Linked DNA regions of Homo sapiens. The protein of the gene in region 1 interacts with the protein of each later gene in a biochemical or structural test. Each region holds a gene or a part of one and is shown in the gene's direction. Other genes may lie near its edges.

What was found. Proteins that work in one complex are often made in the same cells at the same time.
Region 2: the proteins of XIAP (region 1) and PGAM5 form a complex in vitro, tested with the Homo sapiens proteins (2 studies listed by BioGRID, with this or other methods).
Region 3: the proteins of XIAP (region 1) and KCNJ6 form a complex in vitro, tested with the Homo sapiens proteins (one study listed by BioGRID).
Region 4: of the proteins of XIAP (region 1) and PTPN11, one has a biochemical effect on the other in vitro, tested with the Homo sapiens proteins (one study listed by BioGRID).

The regions. Positions count from the first base shown.
Region 1 is NC_000023.11:123,863,053-123,866,552, forward strand, and holds part of XIAP (E3 ubiquitin-protein ligase XIAP), read left to right. Parts: intron 1-3,500.
Region 2 is NC_000012.12:132,713,842-132,717,341, forward strand, and holds part of PGAM5 (serine/threonine-protein phosphatase PGAM5, mitochondrial), read left to right. Parts: intron 1-1,016; coding exon 1,017-1,195; intron 1,196-3,500. UniProt on the Homo sapiens protein: Mitochondrial serine/threonine phosphatase that dephosphorylates various substrates and thus plays a role in different biological processes including cellular senescence or mitophagy. Modulates cellular senescence by regulating mitochondrial dynamics.
Region 3 is NC_000021.9:37,622,958-37,626,457, reverse strand, and holds part of KCNJ6 (G protein-activated inward rectifier potassium channel 2), read left to right. Parts: intron 1-973; coding exon 974-1,299; 3' UTR 1,300-3,500. UniProt on the Homo sapiens protein: Inward rectifier potassium channels are characterized by a greater tendency to allow potassium to flow into the cell rather than out of it.
Region 4 is NC_000012.12:112,421,947-112,425,446, forward strand, and holds part of PTPN11 (tyrosine-protein phosphatase non-receptor type 11), read left to right. Parts: intron 1-3,500. UniProt on the Homo sapiens protein: Acts downstream of various receptor and cytoplasmic protein tyrosine kinases to participate in the signal transduction from the cell surface to the nucleus. Positively regulates MAPK signal transduction pathway. Dephosphorylates GAB1, ARHGAP35 and EGFR.

The DNA.
Region 1 (3,500 bases):
GTACTCCAGCCTGGGCGAAAGAGTGAGACCCTGTCTCAAACAAAACAAAGAAACAAAAATCTGAATTGTAGACTCTTTGTAGATAAGAACATATTTTTTAAAAAAGTTAAGACTAGGGCCAAGTGCGGTGGCTTTCACCTGTAATCCCAGCACTTTGGGAGGCTGAGGTGGGCGGATCACCTGAGGTCAGGAGTTCAAGACCAGCCTGGCTAACATGGTGAAACCCCATCTCTACTAAAAATACAAAAATTAGCTGGGTGTGGCGGTACACCCCTGTAGTCCCAGCTACTTGGGAGGCTGAGGCAGGAGAACCACTTGAGCCCATGAGGCGGAGGTTGCCGTGAGCTGAGAACGCAACATTCAACTCCAGCCTGGGCCACAGAGTGAGACTCCACCTCAAAAACAAATAAAAAGTTAAGACTAAAACAGTTTATAGTGATTAGGAGTTCAGCTGTCTAGTTTTGTTTTTGTTTTGAGATGGAGTTTCACTCTTGTTGCCCAGGCTGGAGTGCAATGGTGCGATCTCGGCTCACCTCAACCTCTGCCTCCCAGGTTCAAGCAGTTTCCTGCCTCAGCCTCCCGAGTAGCTGGGATTACAGGCATGCGCCACCACGCCCGGCTAATTTTGTATTTTCAGTGGAGACGGGGTTTCTCCATGTTGGTCAGGCTGGTCTCAAACTCCCGACCTCAGGTGAAAAAGTGCTGGGACCTCAGGTGAAAAAGTGAGTCACTGCACCTGGCCCAGCTGTCTCGTTTTTAGAAATAGATTAAGACTCAAAAAAAATATTGCCCACCGTAATATATCTGATTATTAGCAAAGCTTGGACTAGAGTCTAGGTTCTAGTCTAGTGGCCCTTGTACTATACCTGTAATTTTATTGCTTTCTAGTGCATTGGATGATTCCAACTAGGCTGACAAAGTAATAATATCTAAAGGTTAGCCAGGACCATTTCAATAGTTAAGAATTATTATTTTTTTCTTTGGTTTTTATTTTATTTTGTCTTCCTTTTTTTTTTCATTTTCAGGAAGTGAGCAGTTTCTCAAAATTATTATAATTAATGGACCAGCTAATTTGTATAGTGCTTAAAATATTTTAGTAACATAAATTTTACTAAATAAATTTACTAATTTAGTAAATAAATGTTCTCCTTTTATTTCATTGTAAACATTAATTTCTTTAGTAAATCCTGTATTTATATTGTAAATGTTTAGCGATAAAATAATGATATTTCACTGTTTTTGTTTGGTCTAATATTTAAGTCTGGTAGGTAGTATTAGCAGAGAGCAAAACCTACAGTTTATGAAATAAACATTCATTGAGCACTTAATGTGTTCCAGGCATTCATTGTAGTATGTGGTAGGATTCCAAGGATAAATATGGCAAAACAAATGCCTTTCTTCTGTTTTTTTTTTTTTTTTTTTTTTTTTTGAGACGACGGAGTCTGGCTCTGTTGCCCAGGCTGGAGTGCAGTAGCGCGATCTTGGCTCACTGCAGGCACTGCCTCCCGGCTTCACGCCATTCTCCTGCCTCAGCCTCTCAAGTAGCTGGGACTACAGGCACCCGCCACCACACCCGGCTTAGAGTGTGTGTGTGTGTGTGTGTGTGTGTGTGTGTGTGTGTGTGTGTGTTTTAGTAAAGACAGGGTGTCACCGTGTGTGTGTGTGTTTTAGTAAAGACAGGGTTTCACCATGTTAGCCAGGATGGTCGCATTCTCGTGTGTGTGTGTGTGTGTGTGTGTGTGTGTGTGTGTGTGTGTGTGTGTGTTTTAGTAAAGACAGGGTTTCACCGTGTGTGTGTGTGTGTGTGTTTTAGTAAAGACAGGGTTTCACCATGTTAGCCAGGATGGTCGCATTCTCCTGACCTCGTGATCTGCCTGCGTTGGCCTCCTAAAGTGCTGGGATTACAGGCGCGAGCCATCACACCAGGCCGCCTTTCTTCTTTTTTTTTTTTTTTTGCTTTTTTATGTTCGTCTGTTTTTATTTTGCTTTTGTGTGTTTGTTTGTTTTTCCATTGTTCTTTTGAGGCTGGGAGATTATCATGAGCTGTCAATTCTCAAGCTTTATCTCTGTGAGATAATCTGGTAATAGTTTTATAAAATGTAACCTGTTAGCACTATTAAAGGACATTGTGTGAGTAGATATGAAGAGACAAACAGTAGTGATAAGATAAAAAATACTTTAGAATTTAACAAATACTGTTTCTGTATCTTAGAGGTCATGTGCTACAGTGTTTGGAAAGAGCCCTACGTTGGGTACCACAGTACAGGTTATTGACTTTGTTTCCAATTAGCTGTGGGATTGTGCATGTCAATGACCCCATCTTTCTTTACATGTTCACATTTTTGATATGTTATTTTAGGTGTTGAATTCAAAACATAAAAAGGGTATTTTAAGGCCGGGCGTGGTGGCTCACGCCTGTAATCCCAGCACTTTGGGAGACTGAGGCGGGCGGATCACGAGGTCAGGAGATCTAGACCATCCTGGCACCCCTCTCTGCTAAAAAAAAAAAAAAATACAAAAAATTAGCTGGGCGTGGTGGCAGGCGCCTGTAGTCCCAGCTACTTGGGAGGCTGAGGCAGGAGAATGGTGTGAACCCGGGAGGCGGACCTTGCAGTGAGCCGAGATTGCGCCACTGCACTCCAGCCTGAGCTACAGAGCGAGACTCCGACTCAAAAAAAATAAAAGGGTATTTTGAATATTTTATTTTATTTATTTGTTTTTGAGACATTGTCTTGCTGTGTCACCCAGGCTGGAGTTCAGTGCATGATCCCAGCTCACTGCAACCTCCACCTCCTGGGTTCAAGTAATTCTGGTGACTCAGCCTCCCAAGTAGCTGGGATTACAGGCGTGTGCTACCACACCTGGCTAATTTTTTTTTTTTTGGTATCTCTTTTTTTCCCCTCGGAGACAGAGTCTTGCTCTGTCGCCCAGAGCTGGAGTGCAATGGCTGCGATCTCTGTTCACTGCAGACTCCGCCTCCTGGGTTCAGGCAATTCTCCTGCCTCAGCCTCCCGAGTAGCTGGGATTACAGGCGCACGCCACCACAACTGGCTAATTTTTGTATTTTTAGTAGAGACGGGGTTTCACCATGTTAACCAGGTTGGCCTCGAACTCCTGACCTCGTGATCCACCCACCTCAGCCTCCCAAAGTGCTGGGATTACAGGTGTGAGCCACCACACCCAGCCTTTTTTGTATTTTAAGTAGAGACAGGATTTCACCATGTTGCCCAGGCTGGTCTTGAACTCCTGACCTCATGTGATCTGCCCGCCTTGGCCTCCCAAAGTGCCAGGATTACAGGCATGAGCCACTGTGCCGGCCTTTGAGTATTTTAAGTTATAAAAGAAATATGTGTTTCTATATATATTATATAATATATATTATACATGATATATAATATATATGATATAAATTATATTATATACAATATATTATATATGATTAATATATAATATATGATATATCATATATAATATCAAAATATATAATATGTATATAATAA
Region 2 (3,500 bases), on another chromosome or scaffold:
ATGTTTTTGTAGAGACGGGGTCCCCCTGTGTTGCCCAGGCTAGTCTTGGACTCCTGGGCTCCAGTGATCTGCCCACCTCGGCCTCCCAAAGTGCTGGGATCCACTCTTTTTCAGATTCCAGCAGCTCTGGAACAGACCTTCATAATGGGAATGTTTTCTTCCTCACTGAGTGTTTGTTTATTTATTTATTTTCTGAGGCGGAGTCTCACTCTGTCGCCCAGACTGGAGTGCAGTGGCACGATCTCGGCTCTCTGCAACCTCCGCCTCCCAGGTTCAAGCGATTCTCCTGCCTCAGCCTCCCAAGTAGCTGGGATCACAGGCGTGTGCCACCAAGCCCGGCTAATTTTTGTATTTTGAGTAGAGGTGCAATTTCACCATGTTGGCCAGGCTAGTGTCGAACTCTTGACCTCAGTTGATCTGGCCACCTCAGCCTCCCAAATGCTGGGATTACACGTGTGAGCCACTGCACCCGGCCTGAGGGTCTAAAATGTGCTTAGTATGACTGAGGACATGATGTTTTAATTTTATTTAATTTTGCTTAAATTTTGAATTGAAACATCCTCATAGCTAGTGGCTGCTGTTGGGCATTGCAGTTCTAGGCTCTGCTGAAGCATCATGGTCAGGGAGGCCCATCTTGGCCCCGTGGACACTTTCCGCCTGCGCCCCGATAGCCGCTGTCCTCTTTCCTAGCCTGGCGTTCTCCGTAACCACAGTTGCGTTTGGGGTAGTCTGTCTCCTGCTGTTCACTGTCTGCCTCTCATTAGAGAAGAAGATGCACAGGGCTTTGCTTGTCTGTTTTGCTCTCCAGCGCATCACTCAGAACAGACCTGGCACTAGCTTTGTGGGAGGGAGAGTGGCGGTATGCTCAGAGAGGCCTCCCCAGGGCTGTGCCAAGGGCCTTGTCTTCTCTCCATGCTCTTCCCAAATAGTCTGACAATTTGGAAATAACATCTTGTCAGAAAAACTCAAACTTGGGAACAGAGGTCTCAAGGACATATCTTGTATTTCAACATCAGGCGAGAACCACTGTCTCTGATCAACGTGCGGAAGAGGAACGTGGAATCTGGGGAAGAAGAGCTGGCGTCCAAGCTGGACCACTACAAAGCCAAGGCCACGCGGCACATCTTCCTCATCAGGCATTCCCAGTACCACGTGGATGGCTCCCTGGAGAAGGACCGCACTCTGACCCCGCTGGGTATGTGGTGGGTTCAGATCCTCTGTGGACCCTCGTGGTTATGTGGCCAGGTGCATATCTGCTGGCGCCTTGGTTATGTGACTGGGTGCAGGTCCTCCGCCGACCCCCTTGGTCAGCTTTCTTGAAAGTGCTTGGGGCACTGGGCCTCCTGGGGCCCATGTCCGAGACCATCACCCCTGAATCACACATTATTACCAGTAACTGTCAGCTGAACTTGGACAGAAGACAAGCTTTTCAAAATGTCCTTACCTTGGCCGGGCGCGGTGGCTCACGCCTGTAATCCCAGCACTTTGGGAGGCCGAGGCAGGTGGATTACCTGAGGTCAGGAATTCGAGACCAGCCTGGCCAACCCGGCAAAACCCTGTCTCTACTAAAAGTACAAAAATTAGCCAGGTGCAGTGGTGGGCGCCTGTAGTCCCAGCTACTCGGGAAGCTGAGGCAGGAGAATGGTGTGAACCCTGGAGGCGGAGCTTGCAGTGAGCTGAGATCGCACCACTGCACTCCAGCCTGGGCGACAGAGCGAGACTCCGTCTCAAAAAAAAAAAAAATGTCCTTACCTTGGCCAGGCACGGTGGCTCACGCCTGTAATCCCAACACTTTGGGAGGCCGAGGCAGGTGGATCACCTGAGGTCAGGAGTTCGAGACCAGCCTGGCCAACAGGGCGAAACCTCGTCACTACTAAAAGTACAAAAATTAGCCGGGTGCAGTGGCAGGCACCTGTAATCCCAGCTACTAAGGAGGCTGAGACAGGAGAATTGCTTGACCCTGGGAGGTGGAGGTTGCAGTGAGCCAAGATTGCACCACTGCACTCTAGCCTAGGTAACAGAGTGAGACTCCGTCTCAAAAAAAAAAAGCCCTTAACTTTTAGCAAATGTTGGACAGATCTTGTTTGCATGAGACCAAATGCAGTGCATATCCCAGCAGTGATTTTATACCTGCTTGATGCCTTGGAAAGCGGCGTGGCTTGTGCCCTCGGCTGCTCACCTGGACCTGCTGCCAAAGACGCTTCTCTGCGGCCTGTGGCACTCACAGGCCTGATGCCTGGCGTCTGCTTGTTTGTTTGTTTTGAGACATAGTCCTGCTCTGTTACCCAGGCTGGAGTGCAGTGACGTGATCTTGGCCCGCTGCAACCTTTGCCTCCTGGGTTCAAGCAATTCTCCTGCCTCAGGCTCCCAAGTAGCTGGGACTACAGGCACACGCTGCCACTCCCAGCTATTTTTTTGTATTTTTAGTAGAGACGGGGTTTCACCGTGTTAGCCAGGATGGTCTCTATCTCCTGACCTTGTGATCCACCCGCCTCGGCCTCCCAAAGTACTGGGATTACAGGCGTGAGCCACCACACCCAGCCTAATTTTTTTTTTTTTTTGTATTTTTAGTAGAGATGGGGTTTCACCATATTGGCCAGGCTGGTCTCAAACTCCTGACCTCGTAATCCGCCCGCCTTGGCCTCCCAAAGTGCTAGGGTGACAGGTGTGAGCCACCGCGCCCGGCCTGGCCTCTGCCTCTTAATGCCCTGTTGAACAGGCGGGACTGAGCAACAGGATCCCGCCTGTCCCCACTGGCAGATGCTGCATAGACAGCGTCCAGGAGGGTCCTTCCACCTTGTCCTTGTGTCCCTGTGCAGGTGGATCTGTAGAAGAAATGCCTGCCTAGAGAAGGAAATGCAGGGTGGGCTAAGGTAGAGTTTACATTTTGAAAAGTTCTTCGAATGGGATAGTGCCTGTTCATGCACATACTAAAAGTTCAGATAGTAAAAATGTGCAGGGCTGTCCTCCACAGACGCCGCCCCCCAGTCCCCAGAGCTGTCCTGGCTGCTTGTGCACAAAGAAAGTGGAGTGACAGATGCAGGTGTGGCTGCATCCAGTGGCTTCGGCCTTCCTGAGGCGTTTTCACCTGGATGCAAAAGCTCACAAGAGAAAAGGCATCTGCACTGGTGTCCGGCCCCCACATAGCAGCTTGGGGTGTTTAGGTCCCGCTGTGTTGGCCTCCGCCATGGCGCGTGGTTGGGGGCCTGTGAGGCTCAGGTTTTGGACACAGTTGAGTGAGGGTGACAAGGGGGGACCCAGAAACCACCCCTGGGCCCCACCAAGCGCCAGCCACCATCCGGTTTGCTTGCTGCTCCATTGGTGGAATCAGATGCATGTTTTTTCCTGTATGGGGGTGAAGACAGTTGAGTGCCGGCCCCTCTGGCCCAAGCCTCGGGCGGGCAGGAGCCATCGGCTGAGCTTGCTGAGCTTGCTGCCTGATCAGGGGTCGTGTTTGCGGGCGGAGGAGGGGGTGTTTGCGGGCGGAGGAGGGGGTGTTT
Region 3 (3,500 bases), on another chromosome or scaffold:
TTATCTTTAAGAAAAGGGAAAAGTGGCCAGGAGCAGTGGCTCACGCCTGTAATCCCAACACTTTGGGAGGCTGAGGCAGGCGGATTGCCTGAGCTCAGGAGTTCATAAACAGCCTGGGCAACACGATGAAACTCCGTCTCTACTAAAATACAAAAAAAAATTAGTCGGACATGGCGGTGTGCACCTGTAGTCCCAGCTGCTCAGAAGTCTGAGACAGGAGAATTGCTTGAATCCTGAAGGTGGAGGTCGCAGTGAGCCGAGATCGCACCACTGCACTCCAGCCTGGGCGACACAGCGAGACTCCATCTCAAAGAAAAAAAAAAAAAAGAAGGGGGAAAAGCTTTTAAAGTAGTTATGATTGCACAGTCTGAGCAACTATGACCACTGGGCCTAAGTAAAGTGCAAATTCAGGTGGGTGACCCTTCCAACTGCATCTGGAGCCACAGTCATGGCCTGTGTGTTAATGGCAGGTGGGAGGGTAACACTGATCTGTGGCCTCTAGCTTAAAAGCAGCCTAAGTGTAGTTCCATATATGAAATTTCATTCTAAGTCTGTGGCCAAAGAGCTCAAATCCCATTAGAACCCAGGCTAAACCTCCAAGAGCAGTAGGAGGCCAGAGTCATGGCTTCAGGGTTCTCCCAGAGCAGAGTGGACCAGACATAGCCATGCACATGCGAAAACTTGTGTGCATTTGCACACTTGATTTCCTTTGCATGTGCATGGCCATGCAGGCAAATGTGGCTTGATGTGGGCCAGGACTCTCTCATTGTTCCCCAGGACTCCCTTAAGAGGCCTGGAATCTCCATGGCACATTAGCATGTGTCTACAACATGAATGACACCTACTAAGTGTGGCATCGTATGCAGGTCAGTCTCAACAGCTGCATGCAGTACTCCTCCTGGCTCTCTGTGACTCCTTGGCCATGGAAAGCCCACACTTACATATGCTAAAGCCTCCATTCTTCTCTCTGCAGGGATGACATGCCAAGCTCGAAGCTCCTACATCACCAGTGAGATCCTGTGGGGTTACCGGTTCACACCTGTCCTGACCCTGGAGGACGGGTTCTACGAAGTTGACTACAACAGCTTCCATGAGACCTATGAGACCAGCACCCCATCCCTTAGTGCCAAAGAGCTGGCCGAGTTAGCCAGCAGGGCAGAGCTGCCCCTGAGTTGGTCTGTATCCAGCAAACTCAACCAACATGCAGAACTGGAGACTGAAGAGGAAGAAAAGAACCTCGAAGAGCAAACAGAAAGAAATGGTGATGTGGCAAACCTGGAGAATGAATCCAAAGTTTAGTGCCCTAGCTGGGCAAACCCTTCTCTTCTCCCCCCAACACAATCTTTCCTTGTCTCTCATTCTCTTTCTTTTTCTGTCTCTCTTGCTTTGTTCTTTATTTGTTTATATTTAATTTTTACATGACCAGAAAACAAATCTTCAAGGTGTAAAATATCTACCTGCCCTCTCTCAGTTATTCAGATTGACAAGGTAGACATGGATTTGATGAAAGTGCAAAGTGCCCTCATTTGTGGCCCAAGCCTGGTCTCCTCCCAAAATACTACACATCCAACTCCTGGAGATTTCAGTTACTTACCTGCATGTGTTGTACAATACCAGATCACTCAAAAAGGTGTGTCAAAGATTTTACCTGGGATATGACAAGCAAGGTTTCTGGTGCCTATTTATTCATTCAGTGAGACACAGAGTGGAGCCCTCAGTTTTATGGATCCCAATTCATTTCATCTACTACAGGGTGAGGTGCTTGCCCCCATGTGGGTGTGGCAGTTACAGGGCCCAGGTGAGCTGAAGACAAACCACTGTACATATATATGCCTTATGTAATTATTTTCTTTTTGTAATTAGTAATAAAACCCAGCATGTACAAAAGTACCATAGAACAGAACTGCTAAATACTGTACATAGATGTATCATTAATGTAGGTTTAGATATATAACTTTAGAAATAAGAAGCAAAAAAAAAAAGAAAGAAAGAAAGATTCCTAACATGCAGTAGGCATTTCTGTTTTGATGTCTGTGTTTTCCAGGTTATTTTGATCCAGTTGACGGCTGGCCCTTCAGTGCATGGCCTTTGTTTGTGTCTCAGACTGGCAGACGTTAGGGTACCTCACTGTTCCCACACGGATCCTTTCATTGAATCCAACAAGCCATAGGTCTGGGGGAAATTGAGAGGTCTGGTAGATGGCAAAACCCACCACCAATATGCTGATATACTGTGAAATGTTACAAAACAGATGTCTTTTTTTAAAAGATAACAAGGGCCTCACTAACTGGCCTGGAGGAGGGGGAATACCAGGAAGGAAATATTCTCTAGCCTGTCACCAAAGGTATGTTTTTACTTTTCACATGAGCTCTTGCCCTTTGTAGTACAATAATTTAGGAAACTTTTCTGCAAAACCATTGATTCTCCAGCTGTAGTTTCTCTACACTCTTACAATGAGACATGGTAAGTTAGCAGAAGATGGTTTGGGTCTAAAGCCGTGAAATTCACAAAGGCATGTAGTGAGTGGCATGCATTATAATCATCGACCTCTCACTTTGACTCTATCTGGCTTTCTGAGAATGACATCTCGCCTGTCCCTGGGGCTTATCCATCAGCATTTCTTGCATTGTGATCTTTTATTATTTTGAAATGACCAGAGTTCAGTATTCAAAGATTAGATCAACAATCTTGATGATTGTCTAAGAAATGTCTCTAGAGTATGCCACAGGCTAGAAATCAAATCCAGTGTCTGTCAATCAAAAGAAAACAAATAAAAAAATTCCAGCCTTAATTCACTTTAATCTGCAAAAAGGAAAGAAGGGAGGAAGGGAGGGAGGAAGGAAGGAAGGAAGGAAGGGTATTTGTACTGGAAATCTGAATTTTAAAATGAAAAAAATAAGGAAACAAATCTTAGATCAAACCTCCGGGGCAGGTGGAGATTTTGCACTGTTACAGATCTTTCACATTCACTTTGCATTTATAAGCTGTTTGTTCTTTAACACAGTTGCCCATCATAAATATTCATTGAATGGATCCAAGTTTATTTTCAGCTCCTACAGCTGTGCTCAGTTTGAGGCTCTGCACCATGGAGGTCAAAGAGATCAAACTAGCTGTCCCTCTTTGTTTCCCTTGCCTTCCCTGACCTGATCGCACAGGCCTTTGGTGTAGTCTGGGGACCTTGTCTACTAAAAAAGAAGTCCCAGGATAAGGAAAGTGGCTCCTAAATATAACCTCGGGGCCTCTCTTCTCCCATCTCAGAGACCTTGGATCAGGACAACTGCCTCTTGGCACTGACTTTAAGGAAAACAAAACTGTTGGCTATAGCCCTTTCCTGTTTGCCAGCATTTCCTTTTTTGCATTGAATCTCTGTTGAATCATTTCTTTATTTCGCACACTCTAAGAAGGAGGTGGTGGTCCGGGAGGAGGAAGCTCGATACACTCCCCTTGAGGCTGCGGGGAGGAGCCATGGCTTGACCTCTCTGCAGCCTAATGAAGGGCAC
Region 4 (3,500 bases), on another chromosome or scaffold:
GTATTAATTCATTCAACAGGAAGTTAATGAGCCAGGCAGGATAAAGCAGTAAGATAGGAAAATATTGCTATTTTCATGGCTGAGAGAGAGCAGACAAACACATGACTAAATAGGGCAATTTCAGGTAGTAATAAATTCTAGGAGGGAAAAAATCCCACAGAAATGTGAGGATGGGAGAATGCAGTTAGTTTTGATAGGTGGTTTAGAGAAGGTGATCGTGTGAGCTGACACCTGAATGACAATTAGTAGTCTGAATTTTGTTTTGCTTAATTATCAAAATAACTCCTCTTGGGTTCGGCTTTTATATGCATCCAGTAATTAAAATGTAAGTATATTCAATGTACTGATATCTCTCAGCATCATAGGTAGGAAAACTAAGGCATTCAGCAATTAAGTGACTCCTCCCTTGATCATGTAGCAGTGATAGTACTGGATTTAGATTTTGAGGTTGCTTCTCTGCCCTTTTCTGCCTTTGTGAAACCAACAAAGCTGCCTGTATTTTCCAACTCTTCCTTCAGCATGTGGTACCTCCTTTACATCTGTTTTTGTTGCTCTGAAATCCATACGCGACGATGAGCTGAGAGGGGCAGAAAATTGAGCTTGTTCTGAGACTGGAGGCTTTTGGTTTATCTCTTGCAGGTCAAGTACATTTTGTCCTGGGCTCTCCCTGGTGGCCACGTTTGTTTATCTCCTGCGGGAGTAAATAAACTTGCCTTGCTGAAAAATAACAGTTCTGTGTCTTTGCAGTGGAAACTGGGATGTCTTTATTAACGTTAGGTCCTGATGTAAGGCCAAGTTTTTGGTTAGAGTTGCTCAAGTGCAGAGGCCACTGCTAAGATGACTTACCCCTCGTGTCCATGGTCAATGTGGAGACTGTTATGAGTGGCACATGATGCTGGAAAAGCAGAGCCAACTCATGTTTGTAATTGTCCTAGCAGGCCGTGGTGTACTTTGTTAGGCAGCCACAGAACAATAGAGAAACTCAGCTTATTCCCCTTCCCTCTGGGAAACACAGACAGTACTTGCCATCCAACGCCAATGTTTTTAAGGAAGAAAGAGGCAAAAAGTGATGTTGGCAAGGTCTCTGGGAGTTGTGGACCCCAACCAAGGATTGGAGACCCTGAAATGGATTCAGATGCCCTAAAATGCAGCCCAGTTCATTACTATGAATTTTGGAGGACTTTGTGCCTTGAGCAAATGTGTATATGTGACGCTCTTTGACAACACTGAAATAGGAAAAATACTATCCATGTTCGCGAGGAGCACTGAATTTAGAGAGGGAGACAGACTTTTATGCCAGCATCAAATGAATTTGATAAAGCTAGTACCAAAATGAAATTTGAAATTTTTTTTTTTTGAAATAGAGTCTTACTCAGTCACCCAGGCTGGAGTGCAGTGATACAATATTGGCTCACTGCAACCTCCACCTCTTGGGTTCAAACAATTCTTGTGCCTCAGTCTCCTGAGTAGCTGGGATTACAGGTGCGTGCCACCATGTCTGGCTAATTTTTATATTTTTAGTAGGGATGGGGTTTCACCATGTTGGCCAGGCCGGTCTTGAACTCCTGGCCTCAAGTGATCTGCCCACCTTGGCCTTCCAAAGTGCTGGGATTATAGGCATGAGCTACCACACAAGCCTGAAATTTGAAATGTATTGGTATAGAATATACTGTTTAGAATGTATGTGTATATATGTATATTTGTATACTCATATAAACACAAATACACATTGTATGTGTTTCTGTAATATGTATATCTGTCTACACATACATGTATATACACACATACAATGTCTTTTTTTTTTTTTTTTTTTTTTGAGACAGGGTCTTACCCTGTTGCCCAGGCTGGAGACTGCAGTGGCATAATCTTGGCTCACTGCAGCCTCGACCTCCTGGGCTCAAGTGATCCTCCCATCTCAGCCTCCTGAGTAGCTGGGACTGACTACAGGCACGTGGCATCAAACTTGTCCAATTTTTCTATTTTTTTGTAGAGTTAGGGTCTTGCTCTGTTGCCCAGGCTGGTCTCAAATTCCTGGGCTCAAGCTGTCTGCCTGCCTCGGCCTTCCAAAGTACTAGGATTACAGATGTGAACCACTGTACCTGGCCTTTACAATGTCTATTTTAAAGATAATGGTTCAAGTTTTTATCATCCCACTGGCCTACTCTAATGAAACATCTATCCATTCATTGAAGAATTATTTATGGTGGGATAACTCTGTGCCAGGTACCGTGCTAGGCATTGAGTATTCCAGGTTTTAGGAAACAGCACATGCAAAAGTGCTGAAGTGGGAGAAGATCTCGGAGTGATTGAAGGCTAGGAGAGAGCAAGTGTGGGAGCTGTGAGGCTGGGAAGGTGGGAGGTAGGTGGGAGCAGACCACATAGGGATTCTTAATGTCTTTAGTGTCATGTGGACCATGGAGAGGAGTGTAGATTGTATTTTTAGAGCAATGCAAAATCATAGAAGGATGTGATCGGGGGAGTGGCATGAGCTGATCTATTTAAAAATATTTCTCTGGCTGCTGTGAAGGAAGGATTGTAGGAGGCAGGAGTAGATTCAGGGAGATGAGACAAGTGATGAGAGAGGCTTTGAACTTGGGTAAAAGTAGTTTGTGGAAAGTCTTTTTTGGAGGTAGTTTTTGTTTATTGCCTTGTCATCAAAGCAGAGATGCTGACCAATGAAACTCCATGAGAAAATAGTGATTTATAAAGACATATCTATGCACTGCCATTAAAAAGCTGCTTGGAAAAAAAGGATAAAAAGCTGCTTTAACAACTTTTTTTTTTGAGATGGGGTCTTACTCTGTCACCCAGGCTCACGACCTCAGCTCACTGCAACCTCTGCCTCCCAGGCTCAAGCATTCTCCCACCTCAGCCTCCCGAGTGGCTGGGACTGCAGGCACACGCCACCATGTCAGGCTAATTGTGTGTGTGTGTGTGTGTGTGTATGTGTGTGTGTGTGTGTGTGTGTGTGTGCTGGGACTGCAGGCACACACCACCATGTCAGGCTAATTGTGTGTGTGTGTGTGTGTGTGTGTGTGTGTGTGTGTGTGTGTGTGTGTGTGTATGTAGAGATGGGGTTTTGCCATGTTGCCCAGGCTGGTCTCAAAATGTTGCCCAGGCTGGTCTCAAACTCCTGAGCTCAGGTGATCCACCCGCCTCGGCCTCCAAAGTGCTGGAGATTACAGACGTGAGCCACTGTGCCCACCTAACAACTTTAAAAAAATTTTGACATTTAGTAGGATATTTATTGCATTATTGTTGAGATGGCAAAATATTGGAGACAACTGAAATGTTCATCAGTGGGGGGGGCTAGTTAAATGAAATACAGTGTAGCATGCATTAGAACACTTTTCAAGAATTTAACTTTTTTTGTAGCCTTTTACTTATAATGCTTGTCCCTATTGATGCCTTTTTTTTCAGCATGACTTACTCTTTTACTATAGGATATTAAAATTTAATTAGATTAGAAATGAGGAATATTCTTGTAATCTGTAGAAAGT